Linked DNA regions of Homo sapiens. The protein of the gene in region 2 interacts with the protein of the main gene of each other region in a biochemical or structural test. Each region holds a gene or a part of one and is shown on either strand. Other genes may lie near its edges.

The links.
Region 1: the proteins of NUP50 (region 2) and IPO13 form a complex in vitro, tested with the Homo sapiens proteins (one study listed by BioGRID).

The regions. Positions count from the first base shown.
Region 1 is NC_000001.11:43,956,950-43,960,549, reverse strand, and holds part of IPO13 (importin-13), read right to left. Parts: coding exon 3,574-3,600; intron 3,356-3,573; coding exon 3,235-3,355; intron 3,149-3,234; coding exon 3,001-3,148; intron 2,574-3,000; coding exon 2,392-2,573; intron 2,309-2,391; coding exon 2,282-2,308; intron 2,090-2,281; coding exon 1,955-2,089; intron 1,805-1,954; coding exon 1,661-1,804; intron 302-1,660; coding exon 221-301; intron 1-220. UniProt on the Homo sapiens protein: Functions in nuclear protein import as nuclear transport receptor. Serves as receptor for nuclear localization signals (NLS) in cargo substrates.
Region 2 is NC_000022.11:45,162,028-45,165,973, reverse strand, and holds the start of NUP50 (nuclear pore complex protein Nup50), read right to left. Parts: upstream 2,050-3,946; 5' UTR 1,678-2,049; intron 1,304-1,677; exon of another isoform or gene 1,019-1,303; intron 110-1,018; exon of another isoform or gene 1-109. UniProt on the Homo sapiens protein: Component of the nuclear pore complex that has a direct role in nuclear protein import. Actively displaces NLSs from importin-alpha, and facilitates disassembly of the importin-alpha:beta-cargo complex and importin recycling.

The DNA.
Region 1 (3,600 bases), on a different chromosome or scaffold from region 2:
CTGTCACTCGACCCTAATATTAGAGTCCTTACGTTAAGCACTTCTCATGATATTGGGGAGTTCTAAATGTCTTCCCAAAAGATTCCTTATCTCTATGGGGCAGGATTCACCTCCCTTGTTTTCTCCAAACCATTGTAAGCTGAAGTGTGGCAGTAACATCTTACCCTGCTACACCTCTGAGCAGTCACTATGGGAGCGGAGGGCAAGGGTCAGGGCTCACCTCCACAACCTGGGCATCATTCAACCATTTGCTCAGCACCTTCTGGATAAGCTGGAAGACCTGCTGCAGCACCACCACCACCTGAAGGCACAGGAAGAAGTGAGGCGCTTCTGCTATCCATCACTGTGACCCACTTGAGGAGGACTTGGTGGCAGGGAGGAGGGGAGCAGTTCAGACCTATTACCCCAGAACACACATTGAGGACCCAGGGCATGGGACCCCTGGGGGAAGAAGTGGTTTGCTGAACTCTCTCATGAATGAAAAAGGAGTATTTCCTGAATTCTAGGGATCATCTCAAAGGAAGCCTCAAACTGCAAAGCAGAGATATCACAAGTGCTTCATAAGGTTACAAAAACTTTGTAAACTTAAAAAAAAATCTCTCCCTATCTCTGCTCTGTAAAACCAAGGCTATGGGCTAGCCTCTGAAGAAGTGGAGATGCTATCTCCTCCAAATAGGCTTGAGGTAGGGAGCCCCAAGGAATGCACAGATGCAGGCTTAAGCTGCTCTCCCAGCTTATGGAGGAGCAGAGAGCAGACTGAGGTCCTGGGAGGTGAGGAAAGGCAGGATGATGACTACCATGTAAAGAAGCAGCTCTGTGGGATGACAGTGGCCCAGGGGTGGTCTAAAGCCAAGAGGCTAACTGAAACTGGGTTGGGGAGTTAAGCAGAGAGGCCAGGATGCCTATGGCTTCCTTTTCTCCTGGAGAAATCTGGGAGGGAGTTCTGGGAACAACGACTAAAGCAGTCCCTTATATTTGTAAAGAACTTTACAATATGCAAACTACCTTCACTTAAGACCACATCTACTATCCAGCACAGTTCTATGAATTGAGTAAGCCAGACATTTCAATGTTCATAGTTTTTAATGGGAAGCTGAGGCTTGCCCCAGATCAAGCAGCTTGTAAGTGGTCACCCCAAAACCTATGCCCAAGCTTACCACAGGACTTATCACACTGCTTTGTGACAATTTGAGCAACCTGAATTTCCTCTACACTGGGAGCAACTTGAAGGCCAGAACTATTACATGCGGAGGAGGTAATGAGCATCCTTAGTGCCCACAGGGGACAGTAAATGTTGAAGTAGAAGGCCCTACAGAGCTAGGGGTTGAACAGGGGCCCATAAAATCACTTAAGGGTTGAAGGATATAACGTCAATGTCCCTCATGGGGCTGAGGAATCTCAATGACATCACCCTAATTGGGCTGGGGACAAGGACAACATCACACACAGAGCTGAGTGAGATAATGACATTGCTGCCTACAGAGTGAGGCAATTATAGGTCATTCATGGAGTCAGAGGACCAAATATATCACGCCCACGGGGCAGGGAGAACAATGACAACATTACCCACAGAATTGAAGAGTGACAATGACATTCCCACAGGTGGGGGTTGGGGGGATGGCAAAGACAAATGTCTTTGCCGTGGGCAAATGTCACCCACGGGGTTGGGTCCCTGTGGCACTGGCAGCTTCCGAAGCTCAGGGCCTTCATGATCATCCTCATGATGACTGATGTCCAGTGTGGTGAAGAGGTTGGAGAGAAGCCCCAAGATGTGAACAATGGCCAGCTTGTTGGAGGGATTGGGCTGCAGGGAGAAGCAAACCAAGCTCCAGATCTCCCAGCCCCAGTTTGGTCCCCAGATCACTGAGCCTCAGCTCTGAGGGCCAGCTCCAACCTCACCCCTCATCAGCCACAGCATCTCAGTACCGCTCCCTGGCCCCCAGAGCTCACTCACTATCTCCTCTGCCAGCTTCTCCAGTTGCTGGATATAGGGTGAGATAAGCGAGTGCAGGTTCTTAAGGATCTCCTCCACTTGAAGAGCTGACAGCAGGAAGCCCAGCGCCTGCATCAGCCACATGCACTGGCTTGTCTGTGGGGCAGAACATGGATGGTCAGTCCTGGCCACATCTAGTTGTGGGGTAGGAAGGAAAATGAGCCTCTTGGGAGAAGAAAAACAGAGAATAAGGGATAAGAGGAAGGGGAAGGCCAAAAAACAGGATTTCAGGGATAAGTGATTCCCACAAGACCTCCAAGGAGACCCCTAGAAACTTTTGAGCCGCACCTTGTGGATCTGTTTCATCAGCACATCCTGAGGGGAGAAAGAAGGAATGTAGTATCAGCACAGTGCAGAGTGTGCTCTGAGGCCCAGCACCATCCAGGGCCCCTGCATACCTGGGACACAGCCACAATGTTGGCAGCATAGGGAGGCAGGTCATACTTGCACTCTCGGCAGATCTTCTTGAGGGTGGACACAGAAGAGACAGACAGCTCAGGATTGCCTAGGGCATGCAGTACCAAGGGCAGAACACTGTTGATCATGACGGGGTGGTCAGCCAGCCATTCAGACAGAGCTCCTGGAGGAAGGAGGGAGACAGGAGGATCTTTGAGGCAGGCCAGGCTGGCTTTGTACCATGTCTCTGAGGCAAGCAGAGTTCCTGGCAGGGTCAAGTTGCAGCCCCAGCACAGAGTACTGCCCCATTCAGAGGACATATGCATGTGCATGCTCAAACATGAGCCTTACAGCTGAGAAGCAGGAAGGGGTTACTCAACAGAGGCCCAGTACTGCTGTTTCACTGACGGTAAACTAGCCTCACTGAATTGCAGCTCAGTGTGCCATCAGATGGACCCCCTAGACCTGCCAGGACAGTCAGTTTGTTACAACACTGATTGTGTGTAGGCATGTGGCTCTCCCATTCTGGATAGGATCCAGCATGCTGGCTGTGGCCAGGGTTGGGTGCTGTGGCTCTGGGAATATGGTCATGGGTGTGTGCCAGGTCTCACCAATGGTGAACATGACAGTGTCTGCCAGCTGCACGTTGCTGATGCTGATCCGTGGGATGAGGCCAATGAGCCCAGGCACCACATCAGAATAGTTGACGTCAATGGTCTCTGCGATGGATTGGAAGCCGTAGAGGAGGGCCTCTGTGTGCTGGGGAAAGAGGGTGCCACTGGCTTGGATGAGGAGGAGGGTGTGACAGGTCTGGGAAGGCTGAGGGAATCAGGCTTGGGAGGTACCTGCCAGGAGTAGGGCTCCTCTGAGCTGGTGAGCAAACGACCCAGCTTGTCATAGAGGTTGCTGAGCAGCTCGGCCCCCAACATCTCATAGACATACATGAGCGTGTCTGAGATGTCCACCCTGAGAAGCAGATGAAGGCCTTTTATACTGCCTGGATCCTGACCCTGGATCCTGCCCCCAAGCCCAGGAGCCTACCCCAGTACCCCCACAACTCTGCAACAATACCTAGAAAACAGAAAGGAGCACCAAAATTCAGAAAGCCTGGACTTGGGCCCCTTCCCTCATTGCCTTCATTATTTCTGGACTCCATTTTAGAGGAGTTGGCCTGCTACCATCACCTGTAAATTCGGAACTGCTCCTTCTCG
Region 2 (3,946 bases):
TAAAGTATTTCAAAAAATACTAAAAGATGCTGGCATCCCAGTTTTGCCATTTTCTAGCTGTGAGAACTTGGGCAAGTTATATTTAATTTTTGTGCCTCAGTTTCTTCATCTGTGGAACAGGAAGTATTAAGAAAGTTAAGATAAACAAAGACTGGCTTAGAACAGTGCCTGGAGCAGAGGAAGGGCTTAATAAATTATTAAAGAAACAAGTTTTATTAGAAGCAAAGGCTATAAACTATCATTTTCCCTCCAAAACGTAAAAGTTGTAGCATGGAAGAAGAATAACTTGGATTACAAACCAGATTTTTACAAATATTTTACCAAATCCCTATTTTATTTCAAAGCATGACACTTCAGACAATACATTTTACTTTTATGCTAGAAGTGGGGGGGAGAAAAAACCCTCTGTAAAATATTCAGAACAAGGCCTGGCACCTGGAGTCTTATGTCTAGCTACTGTTATGAAGAACTTAAGGGAGGCGGAAGGATCTCTTGAAGCCAGGAGTTGGAAACCAACTTGGTCTCTACGAAAATAAAGATGGACATAGATTAGATGAATAGAAATAAAAAATTAGCCGAGCGTAGTGGCGCACGCCTGTGGTCCCAGCTACTTGGAAAGCTGAGGCAGGAGAATCACTTGAGCCCAGGAGCTTCAGGCTACACAGTGAGCTACCACTACACTGAGGCCTGGTGACAAAGCAAGACCCAGTCTCAATCAAACAATCAATAAAAGGGAATTTAAAAAACGTTTGCGTTTGTGGGTAAAAAACCAAATTAGACATGATTTCTAGGTATGAAGCAACGTGGTGGGAGACTGAAAGTCTAGGTAAACTGGAAAAAAACATTATTTGTGCCTGATATAGTTATGTGGTCTCTGGCATCTGGTGTAGCTCTGCCCTTGGAAAGCTCAACTTGTCAACATCACCTTAAAACGAAAACACAGATTTGGCTACACTTAATAGTGAAGTGCCTTGTTGGAGGAAAACAACAAGGGGGCCAAGTAAGGAGACAGAAATACCTAATCTCCAAGCTGGTTCTTAATGGAACCGAGCAAATGGGTGATGAATAACCCGGGAACGCAGTAAGACAGGCCAGAGAGGTAATGCGCCCAAGAGAAGAGAGACGAGGGGCGGCCAGGGGGAGAGGAAGCTCGAGAGGAATCGCTAGGAAGGAAACGGAGAAGACCACGCCAGGACAGCCCTGCCAGCCCCCTACCTCCGGCGGGGCCGCAGGGGAGAGTCTCACTCGAGTCGGACGCCGCAGCCCGGTGGGGCCCGGGCCCCGCTTCAAAAACAGCCGGGGCTGCGTCGCCGCTGTCATCCCACCCCACCCTCCACCCGTCGCTCCCCCACCGCGCGCCCCGCCCGGCCCGTGCGCCCGACCCAGGCTCCCTCCCTAGAGTCCCGACCTCTAGCCCTGTACCCCACTTCCCAGGGTCCCGTCCTCCAGCCCCTTAAGCCCCTCCCCAGGGTCTGGTCCCCCGGCCCCGCACCCCTCCCCAGGGGCCCGTCCCCCGGCGCTGAACCCGCACCTCCCTCCCCAGGGTCCAGTCCCCAGCCCTGCACTCGCACTCCCCTCCCAGGCCCGAGCCCGCTCCCGCCCTCCCGGCCCTGGGCTCTCAGCACCAGGCTCCCGCCCTCAGCCTCTTCTCCTCCCGCGCCCGCCGCCGCTCCTCACCTCCTCGGCGGCCGCCGCTGCACTCGCTGGGTCTTGGTTGCGGCGAAACCCGGGGCGCAGCGGCGCAGGGGTCTGGAGCCCGCAGGGGTCGCCGGGCTGAGCGCGCTCGGCCGCTTCCGGTGCTGCGCTGCGGAACTCAGAGGACTTAGTGCTCGGCAAGCCCAGAGACTCAAACACCATATCCCTGGGGGGGCTCCTCACGCTGTGTTCGGCAGGGAGGCGAGAGCGCCGGTTCAGCCAGAGACAGCTGGGGGAACCGCGCCGAACACGCTCCGGGCGGCCATTTTGTAACTCGAATCTACCCCCAAAACCAATTCGAAAAAAAGGGAGGAAAGAAACGCCCGCGTTCAGCTACTGCGCAAGCGCGCCGGCGCTTCCGGCAGTAGCACCTCCTTCCGCCGGCCGGGCCCCTTACGCGGCGCATGCGCCCAGCTCCCTGGAAACCGGCGCGGGGCTGAGAATGCCGGTCTCGCGCAAGCGCGCACGCGCCGACCTTGATCTCGTAGCCGGCGCCAGCAGCCGCGCTTTGGGGCGTCGGCTCACGTGGGGCCGGCAACGCGTCTTCCAGGATGTTCGCGCGCTAGTCGCCGCTGAGGGGCCGGCGATGCGCGAGGAGTTCCGGCGAGGAAGGTCGGTCAGTGGACATGGCCGAGGCCCGCGGTGTCCGCGTGTGGGAGCTGCAGGGCTGAGGAGAGGCCGCCCGCAACCCTCGGGAATCGTGTGAGGTGCCACTGGGGTCGCTTCACATCAGGAGGCCCCGTCTCGGGGGACGCGCGCAGGTGACCCTGCTGGTCGTACCTGGCCGGGGTGGCCCGGAGGGGCTGGGTCTCGGCGCCAGGAGGGGCCGTGTGGGCCGCCTGTTAAAGGACCCCTCGTTCGCTGACATTTGATTTTGCATTGGGTGCCTTCTCTTCTGTTTTTTTCAGCCAGTGAGATCCGTCCTGGGCACTCAGCTGTAGAGCAGGGGAACGAGTCCTGCGCTTTTTGCGCTGAGGTCTCCTGGCCCGTAGGCCAGGCAGCCTCTGAGCTCCTTTCTCACCAGCAGCTTGCGATCCCTCATCCCTGGCCCTGTCACTCCCAGCTGTTTCCAGTGCCGCCCTTTTTTTTTTTTTTTTTTTGAGATGGAGAGTTTAACTTGTTCGCCCAGGCTGGAGTGAAGTGGCACGATCTTGGCCTACTGCAACCTCTGCCTCCCGGATTCAAGCGATTCTCCTGCCTCAGCCTCCCGAGTAGTTGGGATTACAGTCGTGCGCCACCACGCCCGGCTAATGTTTATATTTTTAGTAGAGACGGGTTTTCACCATATTGGTCAGGCTGGTCTCGAACTCGTGACCTCAGGTGATTCCCTCCCCCCGCCCCACCACCTCAGCCTCCCAAAGTGCTGGGATTACAGGCCTGAGCCACCGTTCCCGGCCTCGAGCGCCTTCTTATAAACTGGATGGTGGTTTTTGTTTTCACCTTCAAAGTCGAATCTCCCTAGTCCGTTTATTACCAGAAAGAGGTCTCCACTCAGACCCAGCGAGAGGCTTCTTGGATGTCGCGTAGGAAAGAATTCGGGGCGAGTCCACGGACTAAAGTGAAAGCAAGTGTATTAGAGAAGTGAGAAAGCAAAAGAATGGCAGAGCAGGGCATTCCTGAAAGCGGGAGGAGGAAGGCGCCCGCCTTAGGTACAGTGCTTGTTCAAATCTAAGGTAACACAGCCAAAGAAATCTTGGGGGACATGGGCTCTACCACGAGGGCCCACGACCAAGGTTTCATGCGCGTCCGTGTGAAGAGACCACCAAACAGGATTTGTGTGAGCAACATGGCTGTTTATTTCACCTGGGTGCAGGCGGGCTGAGTCCAAAAAGACAGTCAGCGAAGGGAGATAGGGGTGGGGCCGTTTTATAGGATTTGGGAAGGTAATGGAAAATTACAGTCAAAGGGGGTTGTTCTCTGGTGGGCAGGGGTGGGGGGTCACAAGGTGCTCAGTGGGGGAGCTTCTGAGCCAGGAGAAGGAAATTCACAGGGTTAATCACTTAGTTAAGGTTGGGCAGGAACAAATCACGATGGTGGAATGTCATCAGTTAAGGTGGGGCAGGGCCTTTTCACTTCTTTTGTGATTCTTCAGTTACTTCAGGCCATCTGGGCGTATACGTACAAGTCACAGGGGATGCGATGGCTTGGCTTGGGCTCAGAGGCCTGACACAAGGATTGTTCATCTTTGTTTACTGACTTTGGCAAAGATCTATATTATCTTTAAAGCGAAACCTAAATGAAGAATGCTTTT